Regions from separate parts of the Homo sapiens genome. Here region 1 is linked to region 2. The links come from fine-mapping of genetic effects on gene expression. A gene starts in region 2. The other region holds a variant in brackets. All regions are shown on one strand. Distances are from middle to middle.

Region 1 (15,736 bases), 200 kb before region 2:
CTACTAAAAATACAAAAAAAACATTTGCCAGGCATGGTGGTGTGTGCCTGTAGTCCCAGCTACTTGGGAGGCAGAGGCAGGAGAATCGCTTGAACCCAGGAGGTGGAGGTTGCAGTGAGCCGAAATCGTGCCACTATCCTCCAGCCTGGGTGACAGGGTGAGACTCTGTCTCAAAAAAAAAAAAAAAAAAAAAAAAAAAAAAAAATGACTCCCAGAAAAGACAGATCACTTAAAGCTAGACAGTGGGAAAACAACAAAAGTAGTCATTTGTGGGTCCCCAAGACCAGTGTCATCCTTTTAAACTAGACAAACGCTTAAACCTCATATTTTCAATTCAGTCCAACAAATATTTATGAAGAACCGAAGTAGTATTTGACCTAAAATGGCTAGTCAAAGCTGGTCCATATTTACAATCTAATTACATAGGCTCTTAAAACTGGAGAACCTTTCTGGCTGTGGAGATGTGACTATGGGTGAAAGTTACACAGAGATGCAAAGTTGTTGACTTTGAAGATGAAGGAAGGGGGCCAATATCCATGAAGTGTGGGTGGCATCTAGAAGCTGCAAAAGGCAAGGAAACAAATCCCCTGTAGGGCCTCCAGGAAAGAATGCAGGCCTGGTGACACCTGATTTTAGCCCACTGAGACCCTCGTTGGACTTCTAACCTACGGAACTGTAAGGTTTTTTAAGCCACTAAATTTGCGATAATTTGTAATAGCAGCAATGGAAAATCAACCCATTGGCACTGATCACAAACTCAAATTTCCAATTTCCTCTCTGGTCCAAGTATCAACCCAAAAAGTAGGGATGTAAAATAGAACTCTGATTCATGAGGGCAGTGAATCTAGAAGGTTCTCAGACATGGGTACATGAAATGATCACTTTTTAATTTTGATGTAATTGCTCTTGGATGGGACCAGACATCAGGTTAAAAAAATGTCATAATAAATTCTAATGTATAATTAAGTTCAAAACTCTATTCTAGGAACAAAAGAAAATAAGCATCTGAATTGCCTGTTGAGGGAATAACTTTGTTCTCTAATAGGTACCCAGGACTTTTTCTTTTTTTGAGAGACAGAGTCTCACTCTGTCACCCAGGCTGGAGTACAGTGGCACCACCATGGCTCACTGCACACTCAACCTCCCAGGCTCAAGTGATCCTCCTGCCTCAACCTCCCAAGTAGCTTGGACCAAGGTACACACTACCACACCCAGCTAAATTTTTATTTTTTGTAGAGGTGGGATCTTCCTATGTTGCCCAAGCTGGTCTTGAACTCCTGGGCTCAAGTGATCCTCCTGGCTCAGCCAAAGTGCTGGGATCACAGGTGTGAGCTACTGTGCCTGGCCAGTAGCTAAGATTTCTTAGAAGACAAACACCATATCCTTACACCCAAACTGGTACAGCTAGAAGTTTTATAGACAGCAGTCAGCACAGGTTGCCAAGATGAGCAAAGCTGTGTTTCATTAAAGCATTACGAGGGTTATCCTTCAGATTTTAGCCAAAGGACTACGTACACAACTGCAGGCACCTGTGCCCCAGCAGTTCAATGACTTTGAGAGCTGGTGAAGCTAATTATCTCTTCTCTACTTAATGCATCAACCTGGGTGATTGGTACCAAGTGAGAAACCTGGGAATCAACCCATTCTTCCCCCCAACTCACTCACCTACATCTCTTTGCCATTATTTTAATAAGTCTCTCTTTAAAAATCTTCAACTGTTTTCCTCACCATCTCTTCTGCCACTGCCTTAGATTAGGCCCCTAATTAATTTTTCCTTTAATTTCTGTAATTGTTCCCACACTAATCTCTGTGCCCCCAACCTACTTCCATTCTTCGATACTGTGAAACATATATTTGGTCATAGTCCATTTCCTGACATACAACTCCCAAAACCCTTGGAATCTCCAGAGTGGTAAGAGTGCCTTTTGTATACTACTGAGATGACTGGTGATTGGGGCCCCTGATAGCCTCAGCACGGGGACTGGTCCTCAGAAAAACCAAGGCAGGATTAAAGTGTTGGGACTTTCAGCTCTATCCCCCAACCTTTGGGGAGGGGAGAAAGGCTGTAGGTTAATCTCCTTGCCAATGGCCAGTAATTTAATCCATCATCCTACCTAACGAAGCTTCCATAAAAATACAAAAGGCTTGGGTTTGGACAACTTCTGGATAGCTGAACATGCGGAGGTTCCTAGAAGGTGGCTTGCCTGGAAAGGGCATGGAAGCCTGGCTCCCCTTCCCGCGTACTTTGCCCTGTGCATCTCTTGTCTGGTTGTTCCTCTGTATCCTTTGCAATGTCCTTTTTAATGAATGGGTAAACATAAGTGTTTCCCCGCATACTGTGAGTCACTCTAGGAAATTAATAGAATGATTTAGGAGGGGTTGTGGGAACTCTGATTTATAGTTGTCAGAAGTACAGACTGCAACCTGGGGCTTGTGATTGGCATCTGAAGTGGGGGACAGTTTTGTAAGACTAAGTCCTCAACCTATGGGATCTGATGCTATCTCCAGGTAGATAGTGTCAACAGAATTGAATTAGCGGACACCCAGATGGTGTACATAGCAGAACTGCTTGATGTTTGTGGGAAAATCCCCACACATCTGGAGTCAGAAGTGTTGAGTAGCTGTGTGAGAGCAGGGAAAATACCTTTTTTCCTACATGTAACCTATCTATTCGAATCTATCTTACTCTCTGGTGCCAGAATGATCTAAGATACATAACTTATTATGTGACTTCTACATAAAATGCCTCTGTGACTACATTTTGCCTTTAGGTTGCAATTCAAATCTTCGTAAGACAAGTCAGCTCCTTGGAGCTCTCACCCTTGCTATCTGCCCCTAGGTGAACCTATAATCTAGGCATTCTCACTACTTGTGAATCCCCCATGCGCCATGCTTTCACACCTCTGTGATCCAGCTTACATTGTTTTCTTTGCCTAGCCAACTCTTCCTTTACATTTCTGCTCAGACATCAGAATACTGACTCCACTTCTCCATTAACCTTCTCTGAGTACCCATACTTTCACTATCTGAAATTGCCTTATTTGTTGAATGCCTTTCTCCAGCACCATCCACACATTCGTTGTTTCATCCCATCATCAAATGTGTTTTAGGTGCCCAAAATATTCCAGATACCGTTTAAACACTTAGAGATACCAAATCAATCAAAGTCCCTGTCCTCAAGAGGGACAGACCAAAAGCAAGTACACACATCATCTCTGATAGTAATAAGTGCTTTGAAGGAAATCAAGATCATACAATCAACAGTGACTAGAAGAGAGGAACAGCACTAAATAAGACAGTCATGGAAGGCTGGCCCTCTGAGAAGGTGACATTTGAACCGAGCCATGCAAAGATAAAGCATTCTAGGCAGAGGAAACAGCAAGTGCAAAATCCCATCATATAAGGCCTTGCAAGCCCACACAGATTTACAATCTTCATGGCCTGGTCTGGGTTAACCTGAAATAATCAAAAGGATCAAAATCCAGTCGAGATTATTCAAGTAAAAAGCTGGGAATAGCCATTTGGGAGACACAGACTCCAGAGAAATAGAGTCAGTGTTCCAAAGTTCAAAGTTAAATTATTGCATATATAGGCAGAAAACAAAGAAGTTTAGTAGGTTTATAACATTTTCTAGAACGCTAGTTTATGAGTTTCTTTTCTGTATGGCTTGTTTTCTTTACAGTTGGTTTTCATTTCCTTTCTGATTTAAAAGAGGTATTTAACACTCCATCTTAACACGGTGTGATAGCCATGAAACCTTTGGGTGAGAAACTAAAAGGGAAGTTAATCTATAATAAAAATCAACAGTAACAGGGAAGGGGTCTTTCCTGGAGCCCTTTAGTCATTTGTAACATTTTGTACAACAATGTAAGCAAGGAGGAAGGTTAATCTATAATCATAGAAACAAAGATTACAGCTTCCCAGGTTACAGCTGCTTGTAACGTGACTCAGGCCCCATAATCACATTTCTTTAAGGATCAAAATAGTTTGGAGTTCCAACAGCTTAGATTTTGAATTACTTATTTTCACACCTGTCTTATTCATTGCTGAATCCTCAGAGCTAAGCAGAGTGCCAGGACACAGTAGGTATTCCATAAACACTTGTGGAATGGATAAAGTGTCTATTTGCTGGTTTACTTACCTATCTCCTTGAAGGCAAGGGCTCCTTCTGACCTCTGTAGGTCTAGTGTTGAGCTGTATGCCTGGCACATAGAGGTGCTTAACAGAGTTGCTAAGCAGCATATAAAAGATGTTGCTTGAGTACCATACAGCATATAAAAGATGTTGCATGAATACCATTATCTTCATTAGAGAAGATAAAATTAAATGGAAAGTATTCTTTAGGAATATGCCACTGAGTTTAGGCTAAAAGACACTAAGATTTTTGAATTGTTCCAGTGTTGCTTAGTTTCATAAAGTAGAAAACTGACATCCAGGCATGTTATAAAAGCAATCTTCTCAGGGAAAAATTATATATTAGTATCTATAAATAGCAATCACAACCTTAGATGGATATTAATGTTGACATGAGCTCAGAAAATGACTTATATGAATTCTAGTAAAAGATCCCCAGAGTTAATTTTCTGGTATTGTTAATTTTCAGATGTCATCTATTGGGAAGAACATTTCTTTAGGTAGGGACTAAAAACAAGCACAAGTAAAAGGTTGCAAAGGGAAGAAGACTATAAGGAGAGAACATTTTATCAAGCAGCTCTTATAAGAAATTAGGAACCAATAAATTTTCCTCCCAGAATACCTGAATAAATACTGAGAAGGAAATCCCTAGCTTTCAGGCAAAATTCAGTTTCTGGTTTGATTTTATTTAGCTTATGAAACACTGAAAGATCATAATGCAAACAAAACAGATATGGTGTCAAAGAAACAAATATACATAAAACATTCATTCTTTTTATGAGCTATATAAACTATCCCAAAGACCTGTGATTTGAAAAGAAAGTGTTCCTTAGAGAAGTGGGGATTTTGTACATAACTGAGGTATGCGAAACATTTAGGGGTCATCTGGCAGACATGACAGCCAAAGTGACAAGAGAATGGGAATAAAAGCAAAGCCAAAGAAAGAGTTTTATAAAACCTCTACAGTGAGAAGAATAGGAGACAACCAAAGTGATTGAGAGCTATCAGAAAAGAGGCAAACCTGGATAATTACTGTGTTCAAAATAAAAAAATATAAGTACAGGTTGAGGATCCCTCATCCATAATGCCCAGAAGTGTTTCAGATTTCAGATTTTTGTGGATTTTGGCATATTTGCACTATGCCAGTTGAGCATCCATAATCCCAAAATCTGAAATCTGAAATGCTCTAATGATCATTTCCTTTGAGTGTCAGTTTGGTGCTCAAAAAGTTCCATATTTCGGAGCATTTCAATTTTCAGATATTTGGATTTGGCATTCTCAATCTGTATGTGTAGATGCCAGATGCTGCAAAGAAAAGGCTGCAGGATTTGGCTAGATTGTTGGTGATTTCTGAGAAGGCAATTTCATTAAGTGGTGAAAACAAACCACACATTTAAGAAGAGAATGGGACAGTAAAGAAATGGAGGTGGTGATCACAGCCAAGGTGTTTTCAAATGTTTGACAATAGGCACAACAAGAAAGTGGAATAGTAGTTCATACAAGAGAATAGAAACCAACAGAATACTTCTAGGTATATTTGAAAGTAAGAGGAAAGCGGCAAGGGAGATTTAAGATGCCAGAGAGGAAAGTGATAGGGACAGTGAGATCCTAGAGCTAAAAAGGAATCACATTCTGTAGAAATGAAAGATTTTTTTCTTTAAAAAAAAAAGGAAAATTTTTCTAAGAATAAGGCAAAGACTAATAAAAAGGGAAATGGGGTAGTGATCTATTCTTATAGTGATAATTAAATTCTATTGCCAATAATCTTAAGCTTTATTGTAAAGAATGAATCTAAATGGGATAATGGCAGAAAGCCACTCAGGAATACAAAATGCAAATTATAAATAGGGAAATGCAAATTAAAAGCACAATGACATACCCTTTCAAACCCACTAAAATAATAAATAAAAATGATAGACAATAACAAATATTGGCAAGGCTAAACTCACCTTAAATAGTTGGGCAATTTGTTTAAAAGTTAAATATAAATTTACCATATGACCCAGAAATTTCACTCCTAGATATCAATCCATGAGAAATGAAAACATATATCCATACAAAGACCTCCATATGAATGTTCTTAGCAACCTTATTAACAGTAGCCAAAAATGGGAAACAACTGAAATGTCCACTGTGAACCCTGAATATCTGAGATAGGTCTCAGTTAATTTAGAAAGTTTATTTTGCCAAAGTTGAGGACATGTGCCTGTGAGACAGCCTCAGGAGGTCCTGATGACATGTGGCCAAGATAGAGCACAGTTTGGTTTTATACATTTTAGGGAGACATGAGACATAAATCAAATATATAAGATGAACACTGGTTTTGTCTGGAAAGGTGGGACAACTCAAAGCTGGGAGGGGGCTTCCAGGTCATAAGTAGATAAGAGACAAATGGCTGCATTCTTTTGAGTTTCTGATTAGCCTCTCCAAAGGAAGCAATCAGATATGCATTTATCTCAGTGAGTAGAGGGGTGACTTTGAATACAATGGGAGGCCGGTTTGCCCTAAGCAGTCCAGGCCTGACTTTTCCCTTTAGCTTAGTGATTTTGGGGCCCCAAGATTAATTTTCCTTTCACACCACCTACTGATGAATAGGTAGACAAAATGTGGTATATCCATATAATGTACTATTATTCAGCAAAAACACAAATGAACTACTGATATATGCTGTATATCATGGACAAACCTCAAAAACATTATGCTAAACGAAAGAAGCCAAACACAAGAGACCAATATTGTATGATTCCATTTATATGAAATGTCCACATGAGACAAATCTCTAGAGACAGAAACTACATTAATTGTTGCCTGGGGTGGGGGAATAGGAATGAACAATTCATGAACATGAAGGTTCTTATTAGGGAGATAGAAGTGTTTTAAAACTGATGTACAGTAATAGATGCATAAATAGGTAAATTTAATAAAAATCATTAAATTGTATGCTTGAAGTGGGTGAATTATATGGTATGTTAAATACCTAACCAACAAACAAATGGAAACACATCCCATGTACATGGATGGGTAGATTCAATATTGTGAAAATGACCATACCGCCAAAAGCAATCTGTAAATTCAATGCATTCCCATCAAAATACCACTGTCATTCTTCACAGAACTAGAAAAAACAATCCTAAGATGCATATGGAACCAAAAAAGAGCCCACATAGTCAAAGCAAGACTAAGCAAAAAGAACAAATCTGGAGATATCACATTACCCGACTTCATACTATAAGGCCATAATAACCAAAACAGCATGGCACTGGTATAAAAAGAGGCACATAGACCAATGGAATAGAAGAGAGAACCCAGAAATAAAGTCAAACACTTACAGCCAACTGATCTTCAACAAAGCAAACAAAAACATAAAGTGGGGAAAGGATACCCTATTCAACAAATTGTGCTGGGATAATTGGCAAGCCACATGTAGAAGAATGAAACTGGATCCTCATCTCTTACCTTATACAAAAATCAATTCAAGATGGATAAAAGACTTAAATCTAAGACCTAAAACCATAAAAATTCTAGAAGATAACATTGGAAAAACCCTTTTAGACATCGGCTTAGGCGAAGACTTCATAACCAAGAACCCAAAAGCAAATGTAACAAAGATAAATAGATGGGACTTAATTAAGCTAAAAAGCTTCTGCACAGCAA[G/GATAATAATAATAATA]ATAATAATAATAATAATAATAATAATAGTAATCAGCAGAGTAAACAGACAACCCACAGAGTGGGAGAAAATCTTTGCAATCTATGCATCCAATGAAGGACTAATATCCAGAATCTACAGGAACTCAAACAAATTAGCAAGAAAAAAACAAACAGTCCCATCAAAAAGTGGGCTAAGGACATGAATAGACAATTCTCAAAATAAGATATACAAATGGCCAACGAACATATGAAAAAATGCTCAACATCACTGATTATCAGGGAAATGCAAATCAAAACCACAATGCAATACTACCTTACTCCTGCAAGAATAGCCATAATCAAAAAAATAAAAATAAATAGATGTTGGTGTGGATGTGGTGAAAAGGGAACACTTTTACACTGCTGGTGGGAATGTAAATTAGTACAACCACTATGAAAAACAGTGTGGAGATTCCTTAAAGAACTAAAAGTAGAACTACATTTGATCCAGCAATCCCACTACTGGGTATCTACCCAGAGGAAAAGAAGTCATTATACAAAAAAGATACTTACACACACTTGTTTACAGCAGCACAATTCACAATTGCAAAATCTGCAAAAATATGGAACCAGTACAAATGCCCATCAATCAACGAGTGGATAAAGAAAATGTGGTGTGTATACACACACACACAAACACACACACACACACACACCCACGAGGGAATACCACTCAGCCACAACAAGGAATGAAATAATGGCATTTGTAGCAACCTGGATGGAACTGGAGACCATTATTCTAAGTGAAGTAACTCAGGAATGGAAAACCAAATATCGTATGTTCTCACTCATAAGTGGGAGCTAAGCTATGAGGACACAAAGGCATAAGAATGATACAATGAACTTTGGGGACTTGGGGGAAAGGCTGGGAGAGGGGATGAGGGATAAAAGAGTATACATTGGGTACAGTGTACACTGCTTGGGTGATGGGTGCACCAATATCTCAGAAATCACCACTAAAGAACTTCTGCACGTAAGCAAACATCACCTGTTCCCCAAAAACTATTGAAATAAAAAATATTAAAATGAATAAACATCATATATAATTTGGTTTATCCAGTAAATGACTAACTTTAAGAGAAATTCACAAATTGATTTTAAATGATTTAAATTTTTGTAACAAATTAGAATCCCTTATGCTTGATAAAACAATTAGTAAAACTAAGTAGAATCAAGTAATCTTTTCTGCATTTTAGTGTTCCTGATTCTTTTGAGCAAATATAGAAGGCCTGAAGACAATTTCATTTTAGAGTTTAAGAATTTTTCAGAATTTGTTTGATCCAAATCCCTCCATGTACTGGGGTCACTTGTGACAAGAAAAAAGAAAACCTTGACCATGGTCACATGGTAAGTCGGTAGCAGAACTAGACAAAAACTCAGCTCTCCTGATTTCTAATCTAATACTTTTTTCATTATCCCATGCAACCTCCCACATTTTCAGAACAGAAACAGAAAAATTAGAAGGAGAAAAGTAACCCAAACTCATAGGACTGTATCTTTTTTGGATTCCTACAAATACTCTTAAGCTTTGTTTCAGGAAGCAGTTACTTGGAAACAGTTTGATCCTTTCAGGTCTCGCTGTTAAGACTTATTAGGTAAGATCAGAGTAGTGTTTAGTCTAGAGTTCATTCCCCACTATTGAGACAAGGCCCTTCTGAACTCTACCCAGCATCCTGTGAATTATGAGGTTTTCCATAGATCAGAGTAGTGTTTAGTCTAGAGCTCATTATTCCTTACTATTATGAGGTTTTCCATAGATCAGAGTAGTGTTTAGTCTAGGGCTCATTATTTCCCACTATTGAGACAAGGCTCTTCTGAATGCTACCCAGTATCCTGTGAATTATGAGGTTTTCCATAACCTCATAATGGCTGGTGGGAAAAGTCCCTATTGCCAGCCCTAAGTGAGCTCCAAGTACTGTTCCTTCTAATCTTCTAGAGTAGCTCTTTCTCCAGCCTCAGGTACTTTCCTGAAATGCAGGGAAACCTTCTGCATTCCAGGAAAGTATCTGAGGGTTGGTAAAGAGTACCCTAGAATACTCTCCCTGGGCAGTACTCTCTTGTCCAGTGCTAGCTGCCTTGGTTTCCCAGGCGTCTCAGTTCTGTCCCCTTAACTTGGCAGTGACTTGCTCCATCATGATTCCCACTTTCTGCACCATGACCTGGAAACTCTCTCAAGGCAGCAAGCTGGAACATTTCTCAGAGATCACTGTCCTTCATTGCCTGATATCCAACTTCTTGGAAATTGTTGTTTCATATATTTTCTTCACTTTTTTTTTTGTTGTTTCAGGTGGGAGGGTTAATCTGGTCCCTGTTACTTCCTCTTATCTGAAAGCAGAAGTCCCAGTGGCGTCATTTTTTTTTTCTTACTCTGAAATCTTGGGTCTAACAACTCTCTCCTACTTTATGAATTGGCTAATAACAATTCCTTTTCTTTTAATAGCCTTTTCTTTTATCTGTTCTCATAATGAGAAGCACAATTAAATGCTTATAAAGCTTTGGTAAGAGGTACTTGGCAAAAATAAACAATTTAAGTATGATGACTACTGACAAAGACTCTCCTTAAGCAAAATTTAGTCAGGTTCCTTTGAGCCCATTCTCTACTAGGCCCGGTACTTGGGCCTTGTCCTCAAGAGCAAGAATCCTGTTAAGTCAGTTTTGTAAGAATCCCATCCTCATATCTGACCTCCTTCAATATCTGATCAAATTCCTCATCCTCCATTGCCCCCGAGGTGTTGTCTGATCATCCTGGCCTGCCTTCAGCAAGAATCCTGTTAGGTCTGTTTAACCAGAATTACCTCTTACCTTGATGTTTCCTCCTAGGAATTTTCCATCCACCGACCCCACTCTGTTCCTTGGTATGAATCCCCCCTTATTCTTCTTCTTTTCAGAACTGAGCACAGTTCTATACTCAAGTCCCTTACTTTATTCCAATAGTTCCTGAGTAAAATCTATTTTTTACTGCTTTCTTTACTGTCTAGCTCTGGTTTTAATACTATGTCTAATTTTACATAAAAATCCTTTATCACATATTCCACACTTTGAAACTCTAGCACTATCAACACCTAAGCTGAAAATGGTCTCTTATCCCTTAAAATTAAGGTTGTAAAAGTATTAAACTAAACAATAAAAAAAAAATCCACCTTGTTGTCATTGGCTCTAATTCTATATACTCCAAATACAAACAACTGTAGTGATTATGTCCCATTTAAGATTCTCTGCATTCCCTTTCCACATATTGGGAATTATTTCTATAAAGGCAGTAAGCAGGGTCAATGAAAACTTTAATCATTGCATTTTGGAGCCAAAGGGGACCTCAGAAAATCAATTTCTAATTGCTGTCTTTGTGGAGGTCAAAAACTGAAGTCTTGAAAGAATTTAACTGTCTTACTACTATATTATAGGAGACATGAGACTCAGTCATTATCCATCTTGAATTTTTAGTGATTTAAAATGTAGTATTATAGGCCGGGTGCGGTGGCTCACGCCTGCAATCTCAGCACTTTGGGAGGCTGAGGCGGGCGGATAACGAGGTCAGAAGATCGAGACCATCCTGGCTAACACAGTGAAACCTTGTCTCTACTAAAAATACATACAAAAAATTAGCCGGGCGTGGTGGCGGGCACCTGTAGTTCCAGCTACTCAGGAGGCTGAGGCAGGAGAATGGCATGAACCCGGGAGGCGGAGCTTGCAGTGAGCCGAGATCGCACCATTACACTCCAACTGGGGCGACAGTGCGAGACTCCATCTCAAAAAAAAAAAAAAGAAAGAAAATTTAGTATTACCATTGAACTCAACACTTGAAAAATGGTAGAACCATCCACATGCATAGTAAAACTACTATTTCCTTTGACTTAAATCTGGAACTTTAAAATATCAGACTTTAAAAGTGCATTAGCTTTTTAATCACTGGCATCATACTGCATCTAGTAAAATTCCACTTTTTCATGTGAACTGCTAAGACAGATGCTTTCATATCTTGTCACTGCAATTTTTAGTTTTCTCATAAGGTCTAAAAATTATTTTCCTCTAGAGCAGGGTTTTAAAATTCTGCTCTTCGAAGTGTCCTTCTGCCCCTTAGTCTGTGGGTGGAAAGTGAAGGAAGGAGAATAATTATCATGTCAAGTGGACTAAGTCTGGATCCTCAATCCCCTGCTTCAACCAACCCAACTCCCCACTTACCATATCTGCTTTATATAACGGGCTTCGGAGCAAGATTTAATTGAAAGATTTCTCTGTTAAAGTTCAAAAATTACTGTTGTAATACCCATCTCACTTACGTTTTTATTTCTTCCGTTTTCATCATATTGCTGTCTTTCCCTCCTTTTGTTTCTCTGTCCCTTTTTCACTTTTCCTATTTGCAACTATATTTCCTTCTAGTTATTTTGCTTTTTTAAAAGGATAAGTTCAGTGTTTTTTTTCCTCTTTGCACAACCAATGGTTTTTAGAAAAAGAATATTGTATGAGTATATGAAGGACTAAAAACATTGCTAAGAGATTATTCATGGGCAATTCTGAAATTAATATTAAAATAACCAAGAGAATATCTTAATTCACTTTCCAAGTGCAGTATTAAAAAAAAAATTCTTGCCAGATGTGGTGCCTCACGCCTGTAATCCTAGCACTTTGGGACGCCGAGGTGGGCAGATCATCTGAGGTCAGGAGTTTGAGACTAGCCTGGCCAACATGGCGAAACCCCACCTCTACTAAAAATACAAAAATTAGCCAGGCGTGGTGGCGGGCGCCTGTAATCCCAGCTACTCAGAAGGCTGAGGCAGGAGAATCACTTGAACCCAGGAGGCGGAGGTTGCAGTGGGCCGAGATCACGCCACTGCACTCCAACCCGAGTGACAGAGCAGGACTCTGTCTTAAAAAAACAAAATAACAACAAAACAAAAAACAAACTTTCTATTTTAAGACCTACCCATGATAACAATATACATTTGCAACTTTACCTTAACTTCATAATATCTTGTGGTGTATGTTAAATCAATAATTAATCCGAGCTCCTCATTTAGTGCTTTTATTGCGCTAATCAAGTCTTTTGGTATAAACTTCTGGGTTGGAGTAAGTCTCTGATTAACTGTCTATGATGAAAAATGAAAAATAAGGTTATAAAATACAGATAAAATGTTAACATTAAACATAGAACAAGGAAGAGAAAAAACATAAGACAATAAAAAGACTTGGTGAAAATGTCATAGCATAAGAATATTGACAAGCTTTTAACTAACTAGAGCTGTACAAATTGCCTAAACATATTCACATCCTTTGCCTCAGTGATTTCATGTCTTGGAAATTATCCTAAGGCAAGTATCAGAAATATTGGGGAAAAAGAGTTTGGGCGTAACATTCACTGCAACATTATGTATAATAGAAACACATTGGAATATCATGTTGCTGTTAAAAATCACATTTCTCAAAATTATTATTATTATTATTATTATTATTATTATGAGACAGAGTCTCACTCTGTCACCCAGGCTGGAGTGCAGTGGCGCAACCTTGGCTCACTGCAAGCTCCGCCTCCCGGGTTCACGCCATTCTCCTGCCTCAGCCTCCCGAGTAGCTGGGACTACAGGTGCCCACCACCACGCCTGGCTAATTGATTATTATTTTTTTAAATGAGGTCTCACTCTGTCACCTAGGATGTGGTGTAATGGTGCTATCATAGCTCACTGTATTCTTGAACTCTTGGGCTCAAGGGATCCTCCTTCCTCAGCCTCCCAAGTAGCTAGGACTACAGGTAGGCAATACCCTACCCAGGTATTAATTTTTTTTTTTTTTTTTTTTTTGGAGATAGGGTCTTGCTATGTTGTTGCCCAGGCTGGTCTTAAACTTCTGGCCTCAAGTGATCCTCCCACCTTGGCCTCCCAAAGTCCTTGGATTTCAGGCACCAGCCACCATGCCTGGCCACAAAGACTATTTAATAAGGAAAAATCCTCAAAATGTTACATAAAGATCACATCACAAAACTTTTACATACAGTGTTATTCTGATTTATTTTTGAAGGGGTAAGGAGAAGGAAAATATATCACTTTTAAAAGTGGAATTTCAATTGTTTTTCTTCTATACTCATATGTTTTCCATTTTTTTTCTATTTCCAACAGAAACTTTCTGTAAATGCTACTGTCATTACAGGATAAACTTCAAATCTACTGTGATTCTTTAAGGCCGTATACACACAGACTTATCCATATATTGAGTCTTACCTTTCACCACAGATCCCACCTGGAAACACTCTCCAGTCCGGCAGCTCTCCTTACAGTCCAACAAATACCTTAAGTTCGTTCCTCTTTCTGTGTCTTGTACCTTTCCTTAGGCTCCTTGACCATCTAAATCAGGGTTTCTCAACTGGGCACTAATATTTGGGGTGAAACATTGTTGTGGGGCTGTCCTGTGCATCGTGGGACATTTAGCAGCACCCCTGGCCTCTGCATACTGAATGCCAAGAGCACCCCCTCCCCAGACCCTCCAAGTTATGACAATCAAACATGTCTCCAGACATTGTCAAATGTCTCCTGGTGGACAAAATCACCCTGGCATGACTCACTGAAACTAATGCTTTAAGTAATTAATGTAATATAGTCCAAGTACATAAGTCTGAGTGGTCCAGCTTGATCCATAGGGAGTGATGAATGGACTGCACAGTCTTTAAATGACCTTCTGCAATAATACTTCTTTCAGCCAAACTTCTGAGAAAAAGTTAGGAAGGACAATTCTAGATTCTACTCTCTCACAAGAATCTGATGTGCTGGTGTTTTATATTGCTTAAGAATGGATCCATACAAATTAGAGGCCCACAGATATGAAGAGCAAACCCACAGTATCTAGCACTTGGTAAGCAGTCACTATTTTTTCTTAAAGCCAATTAGACAATAAGGCTGGCATCTTACTGAGCAAGATAAGAAACTAGAACTCTTACCTAGATAGAAGAGTTCCATCTAGAGGAAGACTTGATACTAGAGAACTTTTATATATCACCAATCCTAACTGCCCCTTGAGGCCACTCCTAATTTGCAAAGTAAAAGTATGTTATCAGTGTACTGAAGATAATTACGCAGGAGTATGCACACAGTTCATTTAAAAGCTGTAAATGGTTAGATTCACATTGAAAGGAATCCAGGATAGTCTTATTTTGCACTTTTAAAAATATGTATTTAATCTGCCACGATATCTGCTATCTGTAGTGTTATTAAAATGCAGGTTTTCATCATTCTCAGCAAAGTAACACAAGACGAGAAAACCAAACATGGCATGTTCTCACTCGTAAGTGAGAGTTGAACAATGAGAACACATGGACACAGGAAGGGGAACATCACACACCGGGGCCTGTGGGGGGGTGGGGGCTGGAGGAGGGATAGCATTAGGAGAAATACCTAATGTAAGTGACGAGTTGATGGGTGTAGCAAACTAACATGGCACATGTATACCTATGTAACAAACCTGCACATTGTGCACATGTATCCCAGAACTTAAAAAGTATAATTTAAAAAAAAAAAGAAGAAAAATGCAGGTTTTATAGAAACATCAGTTAACTGAAGTATATATTAAGTTTATGCGACTTATAACTAGTTACTGTCTACTAAAACAAAGGTCAATGTAAGCTGTGCATAACAAAATATTAAATTTGACAGACCTTCCCACAAAATAGGTATACTACTGCTCTATAAATCTATAGATCAAGAAAACTGATCTATAGATTGATTTATAGGTCAATAGTATGGCTATATTTGAATCTCACTTGCTTTTCATTAAGATAAAAGTGAATTGAGAAGCAAGCAAAATAGTGTTTTACTGGGCAACACTGGTAAATATCAGGGTCTAAATTTAATCTGAGGAACATAAAAATTCCTCAGATTATTTTGCAACTATTCATAATATGAAAAGTCAGATTTATGCAGAGAATCAAGATCCAATTACAGAGCAAC
Region 2 (15,736 bases):
CCATGAGCCAAGATCGCGCCATTGCACTCCAGCCTGGGCAACAGAGCCAGACTCTTCTCAAAAACAAACAAACAAACAAACAAAACCATTGTCAAAACAAAGCCCTAAATTAATTACAGTCATCATGCACTACATAACAATGTTTCAGTCAACAATGAACAGTATATACACTGCTGGTCCCGTAAGATTAAAATGGAGCTGCACTATATAGGTGTATTAAAAAACAAAAACAACTGTTATATTGTATTTTTACTGTGCCATTTCCATGTTTAGATATGTTTAGAAATGCAAATATTCACCATTGTGCTACAATTGCCTCCAGTATTTAGTACAGCAACATGCTGCACAGGGTTGTAGCTTAGGAGTAACAGGCTATACCATACAATCTAGGTGTGTAGTAGGCTACACCACCTATGTGTGTGTAAATAAACATGATGGTGAATTCACCTAATGACACATTTCTCAGAACATATCACCACAGTCAAGTGATGCATGACGGTACTTAGAGAGTCCCACAGGTGACCTAATAACTGAAGCAATCAGCTCTCAAAAGCTTTACCCTGTCACTTCAAGTGACAATGTCAGCGTCAACAAATCCAGAACAAAAGGAAGGACATCTAGAGAGAGAAATCCACAGCAAAGACTAGTTAGAGTGGTTTTCTCAAAACAGATAGAGATGGAAGGTAACAAGAGGGTGCATGTTCCCTAGCACATCTCTCCAGGCCAGCTGAGCCAAGCCTCGGAGAGGGCAATGGAGGTCCTCAGCCCATCAGCCATGACATACATATACATGACATAATCACTCAGACTCACCTAAAATTAAAAACAACAAACAAACAAATGGAGGACTCTCTCATGCTTATTCTACCAATTTTAAGTCAGTTCAGTCTCTAATGTTCAGTAGGTCATCAGGCAAAGGTGACATCACACTCAATCCCCAAACTGATACCTATTCTCTTTAGCTTTTCTTCTCCCTCTGTCTACAGACACCCAGAAGCAGCTGGTGACATTGAATACCTAATCACTGTTACTTCCCTCTTTATCTGTTTTCTGGCTTGGCTAGAGGCCTACCAAAAGGGTTAGTTACATAGCCAAGGTTTAAGATGAGTGCTTTCAACACTCTCCACCTAGCCAAACCTACTCTGTCCTGAAAACAGTACAGCAGTCCAAGTGGGGAAGCAGAGAAGACAGCTGTTTTGAAACGCAGGCTAAATAAGTGGTTAAATGCACATTTTCTAAGGGCAAACTTCTAGGGTTTATACCCTACTACAGTAGACAGAAAATTGAGCTTTACTTTCCTCACGCACAAAATGGAGATAACAGCGCCATTGAGAATATTAAAGGAGACAAACCAGGTAAACTCAGAAGAGTGTCTGGAATACAATAAGCACTCAGTTTATGTTAGCTATTATTATAATTTCTGACCTAGGGTTGTGTTTTACTCGGTAGGTCTAACAGAGGGAAAAGGGTGCAAGAGTGTAATGGTTGAAGTGATGGAAGCTGACTGGGAGAGAGAACAGCCAAGGGATTGGAGTTCTTGAAGCTGAAGTACAGATGCACTGGAAGTCATTCAGCTAAAAAGCTAGAAAAATGGGCAAAGAGCAGAAGAGTTTTTTAAGTTTTTAAGGGTGTAGCTGCTGACATAAATAATTATAAGATTCAGAGACTGGGTGGCTTCATGAAAAGGTAAAGGTCACTAAATTTGAGGTCAAGCAGTTGAGAGCCAGGATATTGGTTTAGTTAACCACATGGAATTTGAAGTGACCGTCATAAAGGTGGGACTTGGGGAGAAGAGGGTAACTATAAGCCAGGTGCCAAAGTCTTCAGTGAATGAAATGAAATGAATGGGAATGGCAGGGACAGGAAGTTCAGAAAATAATAAAGTCATATTGTATAAGCACATCTAAAGAAGGATGCCAGCTGCTCTCCCCAGATCCAACTGATGCTAGCTGGTGGGAAAAGACCACAGACCCAAGGCTGCTAAATATCTTGCGATGTTTAAGAGAGTATAATGACAATACAGCAACCTGACCTATCCAAAATGTTACTACTGCTCCTGCTGAGAAATACAGCCATCAAACTGTTTAGAGTGCCTTCTCAAAGAAGCCTGGCTATTTCACATGTCATGGCATCTCTGAAGCCCTTTCGAAGGATCATTTGTGTCCTCTCTCTACCCCTACACATACGTCCACCACAGTATGGCTCATACTTTATGTATTTTTTTTTTGATTGATTGATTGATCGACTGGAGACAAGGTCTCACTCTGTCACCAGGCTGGAATGCAGTGGCAAAATCACAGCTCACTGAAGCCTTGACCTCCTAAGCTCAAGTGATCTTCCCACCTCAGCCTCCTGAACAGCCAGGACTACAGTTGCAAACCACCACACCTGGCTAATTTTTTTTTATTTTTTGTAGAGATGAGATCCCTATGTTGCCCACAGTGGTCTGAACTCCTGGCCTCAAGCGATCCTCCTGTCTCAGCCTCACAAAGTGCTAGGATTATAGGCATGAGCCACCACACCTAGCTACATGTATACATTTAAATGTCACTCTCCCATAGGTACTTGCAGGGCTGAGGCAAGATGTAGTCATCTTTTCATGCCTATCTCTTAATGCTGTGTAAGCACTTCATAAATGTTATATAAGAGTTCTCACAGTCACCAAATCAGGGAACAGAGCATAAAAAGAATACTCTCCTATGAAGATGGGTCATGAAGCATTTAAGCTTTGACTATAAAGAATGATTTTTTTCTGGCTGGGCACGGTGGCTCATGCCTGTAATCCCAGCACTTTGGGAGGCCGAGCGGGGTGGATCACTTGAAGTCAGGAATTCGAGACCAGGTGAAACTCTGTCTCTACTGAAAAAATACAAAACTTAGCTGGGTGTGGTGACGGGTGCCTGTAATCCCCTCTACCCAGGAGGCTGAGGCAGGAGAATCGCTTGAATCTGGGAGGCAGAGGGTACAGTGAGCAGAGACTGCGCCACTGCACTCCAGCCTGGGCAACAGCGAGACCAGGCCTCAACAGAAAAGAAAAAAGAAAAGAAAAGGAGATTTTCCAATAAAGATTAGAAAGGAGGTGTGATATTTTTTCACCAACTGGTAGGATAACATTTTTAAATACTCCTGATGAGAAGTAGTCATGGCTGACACCCAAAAGTAAAAACTCAGGATTTGGAGAATAAAGTTGTTAGTTAACTTGGAAAATCCTTTACCCAGTACACTAAACTAAAAACGATGATGTCTTAAATTAGCAAAATCCCTTTGTATTCCTCATTCTCTAAAAACTTTTTAAAAATTTACTTACCCTAGAGTTTAAATGAGATGCTTATAAATTCATCTTTGCTGTAGGTTAAGTAATGAGAGGGTTTTAAAATTTTGTTTCTGTTCCTCCTTGCAAGTGTCCCATGCCTGTTTTATTCTTTTTAGTCACTGAGATTATCTCCAAATGTCAAATTTTCAAATTAATCTGTATTTGATATAAATTCTTGAACATGTAGAAAAAGTAGGGAAAACAAAGTGAATATATCTTATGATTTCAGCCTAGGTGAATTCACATTTTGTTAGGGTGGGGGGTTTACTGTTATTCGTTTACAGGAAAACAGAAAGATGGAGAAAAACGGTGTGGAAATAATAAAAACTTTAAAGGAAAACAATTTTCAGGGTAGTACAAAACAATCCTTAGGTACTTAAAAAATTATTGAAAGAACATATTTGCTCCAAATTTAATGATATCACTTCTCCTTCAGTTCTTTAAACTTGAAATCTTTGATTAATAAGCATAAACTTCTGTGAAAACATCATAAAATGAATTACTTTTTTGGACTCATAAAATAATTTATTATAGGCCCTTGGCCTTATTCTCCTTTGGGTTTGGAGAACTCAGTAAAGTATACATTACAAAGTTTGTGCAAGGAAGTAAGTACTAACAGAAGTGAATACTATTCCCTCCTCATTACTGCACAGGCATAACTAAAGAATAAAAACTTTGTGTTTTCTGTAAAAAAGGACTCTGAGAAAAGGAAATTGATAGTGAAAATTCCAAGATGTTCATGGTCAATGTTCACTCAGTAATGAAGTGCTATCAAGTGGTACAGAGTTTTATTTTAGTGGCAGGAATTTTTGTAATTATGTAAATGATTTTACTCCTATATTTGGTCTTTAAAAATTGAATATACAGGCATATACCCTTTACAGAATTATGTAAGTAAAATTATAGCCATAATCACATTTAACAATTGAAACGATTTTTAACATCTGGATTATGAATATAAAATAATTTCTTGTATCTCATGTTTAGTTAAAACACTGTGTTATTTGAGGGTAACATTTTTTTTGTTAATTTTCCCAAATCCCTTCCTGATGATACCTCACACACTGGCTTTTCTGGCCACAGCACAAAACTCAGCTGATTATCTACAGAGAACAGTCTACAACTCTATAATTATTCCTGTGCCACCTTCCTGGTTCTAACCGAAAGTACAGACTATTAGACATCCATAATTACGGTTGGAATAATTTCTCCTGTTAACATTATTCTTACACTTGCCCACCCAAAAACTTGGAACACTTTTCTGCCCACTGACATAATTTCAATTATGACATAATTTCAATTGTAGTTTATTTTTATTGTTCATAACTCAGAAATATTCAATATTATTTGTATACTAGGAAAGATAGTATGCCTAATCACCTCCAGAATACTCACAAAAATTAAATAAGCTATCAAATCACATTTTTAAAACTTTTTTTACAATCAAGATTTCTAAAAATTAAATAATGTTCCTATACTTTGGCCACTTTAAAAATAAATCAGATTCTTTGTTGGAAAGTCTATAAGCCAGCATTTCAATTTTTACTATAACTCTTCGAGGAACAAAATATACCCCATACTTGATGACAATCAGCAATAATCAGCAGAAGAAAAGATATTTGGAAAGAAAGACAGTTTACAACAGTGAACTTCTGAATGCAAAAAATTTCAGTGCAAAATAGTTTTACACTATTAATACTATTGCAGTCATGTGCTACATAATGACATTTCACTGACGGTCCCATAAAGTTATAATATTTTTACTGTACCTTTTCTATGTCTAGACATGTTTACATATGCAAATACCATTGTGTTACAACCACCTATGGTATCCAGTACAGTAACATGCTATACAGGTTTGTAACCTAGGAGCAATACGCCATACCATACAGATATGTAGTAGCCCATACCATGTAGATTTATGTAAGTACACGCACAATAACAAAATCACCCAACACATTTCTCAGAATGTATCCCTGTCATTAAGCGATGCATGACTGTGTATTTTATGTCTAATTCAAGTCAAACACAATTTTTTAATATTGTATTTGTAATATGAAATGAAGACGTGGCAGGGCACAGTGGCTGATGCCTGTAATCCTAGAACTTTGGAAGCTGAGGCAGGCAGATGGCTTGAGCCCAGAAGTTCAAGACCAGCCTGGGAAATATGGTAAGACCCTGTCTCTACAAAAAAATTCAAAAATTAACTGGTGCGGTGGTGTGTGCCTGTAGTCCTAGCTACTTGGGAGGCTGAGGCGGGAGGATCACTTGAGCCTTGGAGGCAGAGGTTGCAGTGAGCCAAGATAGCGTCACTGCACTCCAGCATGAGCAACAGAGTGAGATTGTCTCAAACAAAGAAAAAAGAAATGAAGACTTGTTTACTTCATTGAGTAAATGATTACTGAACACTCACTATGTGCCAGGCATGTTCTCAATATGGGGGATTCACAGGTGATAAAGACAAACATAGTTTCTACTTTTCCATTATCATGAAGCCCAAATTTTTTAAAAATTTATTTTGCAGATGTCATCAAACGAAGTCTATGTGTTATCTTGAATCATTTACATTCAAAAATACTTAATCCTGCAATAAAATGTTAAAAAGTCACAGATGTTACAGAGTCAGGGTTGAAAAAGAGCTCATTAGTTCCAAGATGCACATTATTTTACATTTTGACATCTCTGAAATCAGTCACATCTTACAATGTAATCAGACTAGACGGCAATGGAGATGGAGTTGGCACTGCCGTGCATCAAAACTTCAAAACTCAGAATGAGCACTAGGGGCTTGGAAGAAAATCCCAGGTTTGATGGTAAAGGCACCATTTTAAGGAATTTTTTTTTTTTTTTTTGTGGTAGAGATGGGATATCGCTATGCTGACTGACCAGGCTGGTCTCAAACTCCTGGCCTCAAGCAATCCTCCCATCTGGGCCTCCCAAAGTGGTGGGATTACAGGCGTGAAGCACCACACCCAGCCTTAAGGATTTCTGATGATTCAAGATTCAATAAAACATAATAGTTCAAAGTTTTCATTTATTATAGGTGAGGAAAATGAAATTCAGAGTGGTCACACAACTTGCCCTAGTTTACAAAGCTGGACAGGTAGAATAGAGTCCAGGTCTGTTTTCTACAGTCATTCACTCTTCTACCAGTGTTCAGTTATATGGAGGAAAAGGGTGTCATACAAAACAAGTAGGTAAGAAGATGGCTCTAAGTTACAAAGACGGATTTGTAACTTAATCCGTCCTTGCCTCAGTTTCTCCATCTATTAAAACAGGGATTTAACAAACCTAACTCACAGTACTGCTGTAAGCATTAAATAAAATATGTCTAGCAATTATCACAAAGATTGGCATATGGTAAATACTCCATAAATGTCAACTACTTGAGATCAAACTTTACATTTATTATACACTAAGTCAAGCCCACATATAGTTGTCTAAAGCGCTTGAAAACTAAATAAACTGGTCAAGTGTTTGAAGTGATAAATACAATGAAAATTTCCACCTTAACAATGTTTTGTCCAGGTACTATGCCAAGAACCCAATAGACCTACCTGCAAGAAACCATACAAAAAGCAAGATTCCAGGCTGGCATGACGATCAAATTATGTACTTCAATGCGTGTGAATGCATTTATAAGCACAGTCTCAATACATAAATAAGGAACAAAATATTTAAAATGTATAAACAGATCATTTCTCTTTGCTTTCTTTAAAATACTATATCAGAATCACCTGAGGAACTTGATAACAATTTTTTTAAAAACTATTATAACTACGTATATTAAGCCTTGTTAAAACCACAAGTTTTAGAGGTTTAAGCCTTACTAGGTCAGCTCTTCTGATTTTGAGAGTTTAAGTGAAAATTTAAATTATAACACAGTATGTGGAGTAAACCTGCTTCAAATATTAGTTTCTACATTATTGTTTCTATAAAAATAGTAATCTTCTGTATTTTAATATCAACTCATCACATATTAAATATTTCAGTCAAATCAAAATTTCATTTGAAATCTTCAATCTAAAAAATACACAGTTAAGCGCTTAAAAAGTAATTTTAACCACTAGGAAATGTTAATGATTAACTCACATTTGTTTCTGTTTCACTCCATGACAAAGTCTATAGGACACCCTGCAGAGAGGAAAACTCACATTAATATACCCATAATTTTACTTTCAGAAGCTTCTGGTAATCAAAGACTTATTATGAGGTGTCTTCATGTTACCACTGCGCAGTAGCAAACTTAAAATATTCTAAAGATTAATCTATTTTCTCATTTTTTTAATGCTTTTGTTAAAATCTCAACAAGTACTAACATGTTATCTAAATTTAAACCTTAAAACAATAACACGACCCAATATGTGAACTCTGCCTATTAATTCTAAAACTTTTAATAATAGTTTGCTTATGTTTGAGACTTAAAACAATAACATACTGCACTACACCCATCTTAGATATTTTCTAGGATCAAAGTCTATCTGGAGCAGGGCAAGCTGTGGTTGAGGGTGGTTGGGTCAGCAGGTAAGAGCCTTATGACCAGCTCTAAACGCCTCCACGGTGAGGAGCACCTCGAGCTAACAGACCAAGCACCAAAGGGTGGAACAGCTCAAGGTTGCATTTAGGAGACTCCAGCCTCGGCCGCCCGTGACTCCTCGACGAGCCCCACCTCTCTCGGTTCCAGCATCCGGCCCGCCCCTTCCTCCCAGGCTACCACAGTATCGCCCGCCGAGCTCCCGGGCTGCGGGAAATGACGGAAACAAAAACTTGGTACACAAAGAAGGGCTAGGTCAGAAGTGAGGTCCCACCCTGGCAAGAAGGGCGACTTTTCTAGAAAAACTTAGCGGCAAGTTAACGGGAAGCGCGGCGACACAGTTCCTACGATTGTGGGGGGCACTCTGCCGCCAGGCAGTCTCATCCTTTGTCCTTTGAGAGGCCTCCTTGAAGCCGAAGGCTCTTAAGTGTCCCTGGGCAACCCTTGACTCGATCTCCATTACGGGCCCTCACTGACAGCAGCCATGACAGTTGCTTCCGGATATATTGAATCGCCGCGGCCAGAGTCTCCCGGAAGTGACGCAACGCGGAGGGATCCGCGTTCGGCAGTGGGAGACCGAAGCGAAGTGGTTCCCGGAAGCGGCTGCAGCTGGGCTGCTGGTGGCGGGGCGGGGGTAGAGTGGGGAGAGAGGTTGTGGGTCTTACAACCAACCAACCCCAACACGTTTTACGTGTTAGGCAGGCATTGTGCTGAACACCTCATTGGCAAGCCATTTAATCCCTTCCTTACAATCCCAGCAGTCAGAAATGTATCACTTACATTTTATATATGGGGAAACTAAGGTTAAGAGAGGGCAAGTAAATTTGTCCGAGATCGTATAGCTGGTACTTGGTGAACGTGGTCTAACCCAGACACCGCGTTCTCCCTGGTGACTCCATTTTGTAAAACCAGAGCTGTTGGCGCATGGCATCCTCGTAAGCCCCTTTAAGTTAGGCACTCTGTTGCCCAGAGAGGGGCCAACTTGTAGCCAGTATGCTCTTTATGGTGAACACAAGGCCCACGTGTGTGCCTGGGTCCCCTTGGCTGAACCTCGGATTTCAATTGGTTTCTGACACCTTGCCTTTGCAGCATTCTCCGTCTGCAGCGCTGGTTACCTGAGGAAACTGTCAATGATTGCTAGGCTCTGGGGAACATTTTAGCTCCGTTTAGGCCCTTTTAAATCCAGGACTAAGACAGTTGGAGGCCTCTCACCATCACCAGATACTCTAGCTGGCCTTAACAGAGGGCCAAGGACCATAATCTTGGACTTTCCACCAGACCAAGTGTTTGTTTGGCTTCTGTTTCTTTAGAATATGACTGAAAACCAATCTGTAGTTTGTTTAGTCTTCTTTCTGCATTGACCAGTACTCACATAATAAAGTGGGACTAGCCACTAAGGCTATGTTTTTGTAAAAACAAATTATGCCTAGAAAAACACAAGAAATACATCAAAATTAACAGTGATAGTGTTTGAATAGAGAGTGATTTTATTTTTTTCTCTCTGCTTTCTCTTTTGCATATCTGCTATAAAACCCTTTTAAAATAGAAAAATAAGCAAACTGGCTATGGTAAAAACATTTTTAATTGCCTGCTGTTATAATGACGGCAAAGGCATGTTGTCACATTTTGATAAATGACCGTCCTTGATACAAATCACGTAGAGAAATCCTGTTTGACTAGAAAAGCATTGGATTTTTGTGAGTCAGTGTATTCTCAAAATTTTCGATATTTTGTTTTGGTTCTATAATCCTCACAGGAAAAGTAAAAAAGCAAATTGATGTTTTTCACACACTTTCGTATGAGAGTATGCTACCACCAAAAGTCTTCCCTAAAACAAAGTTGCAGGGGTCAAGTCATGTGGGGCGTTTGGATACTTGAAATGGTGGAGAACAAATATAAAAAGCTATTTTTATTCTGGCTGCTTTGGGGTACAGTTTTAAGCAATTTATTTCAGACTGCCAAAGAAAGCTTCATTCTTTATTCACATACTCTACTTCCCACTATTGCTTATTAGTGACTTCTAAAGCAGTGACAAAACAAGTAAAAGAAGATAGAAAGGAAAAATGAGAAGGGATCACGGGAAGAAGAAAATGTGGAGGAACAAAGACAGATGGTGATATTGGGGTTACTTTGGAACTCCAGGGTAGCATGTAACAGCCTTCTTATCCAAGTCCTGGCACAGGCCTGGTTGCCTACTAAAAGGTAAATTAGCATCTATGATGTTCCTGCTCACATACTCAGCACCCACAGTGATAAGTCTTACTAAAAATTCATCTTGATGCGCATTCAAATTAGACATATATTTTAACAAAAATGGAGGGGTTGAACAACAAGAAATGTAAAGTAAAATCCCATCATTTTTCCTGTTTTTTTATCTTACCATGTCATTCATTCATCCTGTGGTTAGTAGTATAACTATAAACTGGAAGTTTTGCCTGCAGCATTATAAAGCAACAACTATGAAACGCCAAAGTGAGGTGCTGACAAGATGCATGTTTTCCAAAGAAATGTCTTTACATTAGTCTGGCTCTGATGAGAAGTTGTTATGATGGGATTAAATGTGCAACAATTTTATTAGAGGAAACACCTGTGAGAGAGAATGGGCGGGAGCCAAGCAAGACTGGGAGAGGCTGCAAGTCTGAAATTGAGTAAAGCAGAGAGAGAGGGAAGGGTGGTGGAAGTTTCCTGGACTGCCAAACAGTCTAAGCAAGATTTAGAAAGGCTATTGGAAATCCTCAAGCCAAAATCACCTGTCAGAGGAGTCCTTCTTTCAGGAGCCAGCCTGCCTTATTATCTGTGCTGCTCTCAGTCACCGGCTGGAGCAGCCCATGGGTGAAAATGTGGCCAGGGAATTCAGAGTGCAGCAAGCATCTAGAGCCCTTGATCAGTTTTGCTCCCTGTATTGGCAGCCACAGTCCAAGAACTGGTTTTGCCGCTATTGGAACCTTTCACCAGTTTCATGGGTTAAAAGAAGATGTTGAAAGAGATGAGTTTATGAGGAGAAGTTTTGGGGAGAGCCATTGTTATATGCTTCCCCAGTCACCTTCAAGTCTAGTGAAGGGGGCTTCAATAGCAATACTCAGAGAACTTGACATGCATTTCCTGGGTTTTGAGAGGTACAGTAGTATCGTGACTCACATCTGGGAAATCCCAGGGGTAGGAGAGATGGGCCAGTGAGAATTTTGGCATAGGAGTGAAGGAAAGTTGCTATGTTGGGATCTGTAGTCACTGCCGTAGTTTGTCAAGGCAAATGATGCCTGAGTGTTTCTCGTGCAGCAGATGTGGGCCACGTGAAAAAAAGAGAAAGTTGGCCTGAGACCTTTTTGACTCTTGTGTATGGAGAGAATCTGTATGGTATGGATTGTTAGAGAAGCCATAGCTGTAGATGGAGCAATAGCTGGAGGAACAGAATGTATTGCCTATCTAGAGTGACCAACTTGTCCAGTGCCCTTGGACTTTCCCTGCTTTAGTACCAAAAGTCCCAAGTCCCAGGAATCCATGTTTGATCATTCTGTGTGTCATAGGAGTTGCAGCATCCAACGAACCTAAAAATCACCCGTGAGAGTGAGCCAAGTTTAAGTTTCAAGCAGGTCTAGAGTGTAAAACCAGCTTATGACCATGCCGGGATTAAAGTAGATTTTAGCAGAGGACAATTTGAAAATGACGCTGAAACAAAAATTTCTACACACTCTTTTTTTGGAGTGTGTATTAGTCTGTTGACACAGCCAAAATACCATAGACTGAGTGGCTTACACACAGAGATTTATTTTCTCACTGTCCTGGAAGCTCAAAGTTCAAAACCAGGGTTTTGACCAATTTGCTTTCTGGTGAGGGGCATTCTTCCTGGGTTGCAGCTGGCTGCCTTCTCACAATATCCTCATATGGCCTTTCCTCGGTACATACTCGAGATGAAGAGGCGTGGAAGAGAAAGAGAGAGAACTTTCTGGTGTATCTTCTTATAAGACACTAATTCTGTCAGATCAGGGACCCACCCTTATGACCTCATTTCATCTTAATTACTTCCTTAGAGGCCCCATCTCCAGATATAGCCACAGCGGGGGTTAGGGCTTTACCATATGAATTTGACGGGCACACAAACGTTCAATCCATCACAGAGTGTGACTCTGCAACACAGAGATACCTTTTTTGGGTAGGGGCGGTCATGAGAACATTAGGTCTGTGTTTATGTCTCACACTCTTAAGGAGAAGTTATGCTATGGTGACTTTGCAGCCCTGTATCTTTATGAACAAATGTAAATATGATGTCTATAGATCGTTTGTGACACTTTTAGAGCTCTTTAGACATTACTTTAATCTTGTCAAGGAAAGTTGGATACCCAGAGGACCCTGTTATTTTTGTGTTCTGCAGAGCAGAGGATGTCACACGCTAATGTTCACACTACTGAACTCATGAGGAAACCCACAACAGACTCTGTGTACATAGTGATCAGGACTTGGGCTAAGCCCTGGGGCTTGTACTTAGCTACAGGGACTTAGTAAACAGTGGAACTATTCTGATAAGGGATATGTTACTGCTTCTATTTATGAAATTTGATTTTTTTTAAAGTTAACACAGGATTGGCTAATCAGAGAATATATCCTCTTACATCTTTTTTACAAATATGAACTCAAGTAGTTGTAAGACTCCAGCTTAAAAGGCCAGTATATTAAGAATGAATTGCTGTTAAACAAAACAAAACAAAAAAAAGACAGACATAGATTTGAGCTTCCTTTAGCATCCACTTGATCCTTCCAGGAGGTATAGCTGTTTTTTTAATTCCTTAAGGGGTATAATAGTTGGAATTATGTTCAGCTATGAGGAAGTAATAGAAATTTTCAAAATAAGTTTATTTAAACATGACATAAATTAATTTTTTTTTCTTTTAAGACATCTAGATGAAATCAATTTAGAGTTCGTACAGTTATTCATGGGGTGAGGATTCCAGGCTCCTCCTATCTTGTTGCTCCACTATCTGTGGTGTCCATTTTCCAAGGTAATTTCATGATCTAAGATGGCTGTTAGAGCTGTAGCCATTCCAGTGAACAGGAAAGACTAGGGGATTCAAAGAAAAGCACAATTGTTTCATTTCAGGATAGTTCCCAAATGTTACACACAATCCTCTGCAAGACATGTGGAAAAGGTGGTATTTTATTTTCTGGTAAGCCAGTGCCCAGCTAAAAAATTAGTTTTTATTACTCTATAACAAGGGTCAGAAAATGATGGCCAATTGGTGAGTTGCCTGTTTTTATAAATAAAATGTTATTGGAACACAGCCATGCTCATTTTACCTGTCGTCCATGTCTACATGTTCTTTTAAATGATTTTATTGACATAATTCACATTATACAATTTGCCCACTTAAAGTGTAAAATTCAGTGGCTATTAGCATTCACAGAATTATGCATCTATCACCACAATCAAGTCTAAAACATTTCCATTGTCCTGAAAAACCCCACGACCTTTAGGTATCTCTCCAATCCCCCATATCTGCTACCCATAATCTTTCTGTCTGTATAGATTTGCCTACTTTGGACTTTTCATGTAAGTGGAATCATACAATAATTTGGGTCTTTTGGGTCTAGCTTCTTTCACTTAGCATAATGTTTTCAAGATTCATCCATACTGTAGCATGTATCAGTACTCCATTTCTTTCTGTGGCCAGATATTCCATTAATGGATATACCACCGGGTGTTTATTCATTCATCAGTTGATGGACATTTGGGTTGTTTCTTCCTTTTAGCTATTGTGAATAATGCTTCTATAAATATTCATGTACACATTTTTTTGTGGACATATGTTTTCATTTCTCTTGGGTATATTCCTAGGAGTAAAATTACTGGGTCTTGTGGTAAAGGTATGTTTAACCGTTTCAGAAACTACTAGACTATTTTCCAATGTGACTGCACCAATTTCCCACCTTCAGAAACATGTTTGTATCTGAATGCATATCTCCTATATTTTAAATAAATAAATATATGCAGGGAAAAAATAATAGATCAGAAAGAGAGAGAATCCCATTGTTATTCTGGTTGTCCCTAAGATTTGCTCTATCCCTCTCCTATCTGAGGTTTGATTATTATGTGAGCGAATAAGTCCTCTTTTTTTTTTTTTTTTTTTTGGGACAGAGTCTCACTCTGTCACCCAGGCTGGAGTGCAGTGGCATGATCTTGGCTCCCTGCAACCTCCTCCTCCCAGGTTCAAGTGATTCTCCTGCCTTAGCCTCCTGAGTAGCTGGGATTATAGGCACGTGCCACCATGCCCAGCTAATTTTTGTATTTTTAATAGAGACAGGGTTTTGCCATGTTGGCCAGGCTGGTCTTGAACTCCTGACCTCAGGTGATCTGCCCACCTTGGCCTCTCAAAGTGCTGGGATTACAGGCGTGAGCCACCACTCCGGCCAATCCTCCTTTTTATTTGAGCTATTTTGCATTAGGTCTCTGATACTTGCAAACAAAGGCAACTTGCAACTAATACAGAATGTGAACCTGCTAAAACAGTTGTACAGCCATGACATTATTCATGCTAAAAGGAGGTGGCTATTAGAAATAAACACTTGAAAAATACAACTTTCTATCAACTGTGATAGAAATCAGTAGTGACAACCAATATCAGTTTCCTCCTGTTATTTTTGGGCACGCAGCTAGACTATGTTTCCCAGATCCCCTTGTACTTAGATAAGATTATATGACTAGATGTCACCAGTGGAATGTGAGAAGTGATGGGTGTCATGATTGTAGTGGTTAAATATGGATATTGACTTATTTTTCTACTTTCCTTTTCTGAAGGCCAGGTGTGGAGAATTCAGAGGACTCTGCTTCTTGGGGAAGGTGGAGCTACTAGATATTAAAAACTTAGGTCCCTGAATGACTGCATGGAGTAGAACCCTTTCATTATGTCTGTTAACCCATATTGGACCGGGACATGAAAAAGCAATAATCCTTTATTCTGTTAAAATACGAAAGTAAAACAAAAACAAAAATAGCAGGTAGCCTACTTTAATACATCTACAGCCTTAAAATACTTCCTTATGGATTTTGATGGTTCTGGCTAATTTGGGCAAAAAATATGGCATAAAATATCAATCATCTGAATAAATGTGATTAAGATTTAACCAAGGTCATCATGAGAAATACTATAGTAGTATAGCTATTGGTGGTACCTATTCAAAGGATCACATACTAGTTTCCATATCCAGTTTGTGGAAGTCTTCGAAGCAATGTTTAAAGATGAGTTACCTAGAGATTGTGTGAACATAAAAATGTGGATGATCTAGAGGACAGAAGCAATTACCCTGATGAAGATGTAAAAGTTGTCACTGTAAATATCTATCACTGAAATCTCACATCATTTGTATTATTCAAATGTGTGTCCAGTGAGGCAAAAGAACTCATGGTATTAATTTGAATGCCACATATTGGTTCTTTAGAAATCATTTCCCTCCTCCTTTAGAAATCACTTCCTCCTTCACCTAGGACAAACCACAGATAACTGCACAGGCTCTGTAAATGGTTTTAAGAAGTCTTCAACGATGCCCCTAAGAACATATTTGGTTCCCTTCTGGTAGATTAAATGCTACCTAGCCTGAGGAAGACCCCCTGTGTACTAGTATTTTTCTCCTACCATGAGTGACATATTGTAAAAGCATTAGGCATCCAGATGTTCTACTTCTCATTGCTTTTCTAAATGTTTTATTGAGATATACCTTCTACTATAAGATGACTCATTGTTAGGCAGTATTTATCAAGCAGCTATGCCAGTTATCAACTGATTGCCTCTCAGCCCCAAATTTACCTTTTTGCCTGATCAGTAAACATGGACCTGGGTCCTTGAAATATTTTTCCTTAGCCAGTGGGCATGATGTTAATCTTCTTAAGAAGTGGGAGCTGG

Alleles and levels. Alleles are on the strand shown, and positions count from the first base shown. SD is a standard deviation of normalised expression in the study named.
With allele G in place of GATAATAATAATAATA in region 1, the expression in Th2 cells of the gene that starts at base 8,375 in region 2 is lower (large effect, 1.1 SD a copy in Schmiedel 2018).

Evidence for each region.
Region 1: its variant is fine-mapped to the expression of ENTPD1-AS1 in Th2 cells (Schmiedel 2018, PIP 0.95).

What each region holds. Positions count from the first base shown.
Region 1 is chr10:95,886,127-95,901,862 of GRCh38, forward strand. The region is part of intron 2 of ENTPD1-AS1 (ENTPD1 antisense RNA 1); the gene reads right to left. Among named protein-coding and RNA genes, the nearest start is that of CC2D2B, 14 kb to the right of the region's middle. RefSeq lists a silencer at 10,053-10,253. The variant G/GATAATAATAATAATA (reference allele first, on the strand shown) is at 7,789.
Region 2 is chr10:96,081,861-96,097,596 of GRCh38, forward strand. It overlaps ENTPD1-AS1 (ENTPD1 antisense RNA 1), which reads right to left and starts at 8,375. Exons shown (of 6, transcript NR_038444.1): 1 at 8,122-8,375; 2 at 7,406-7,447. RefSeq lists enhancers at 8,095-8,464, 8,475-8,524.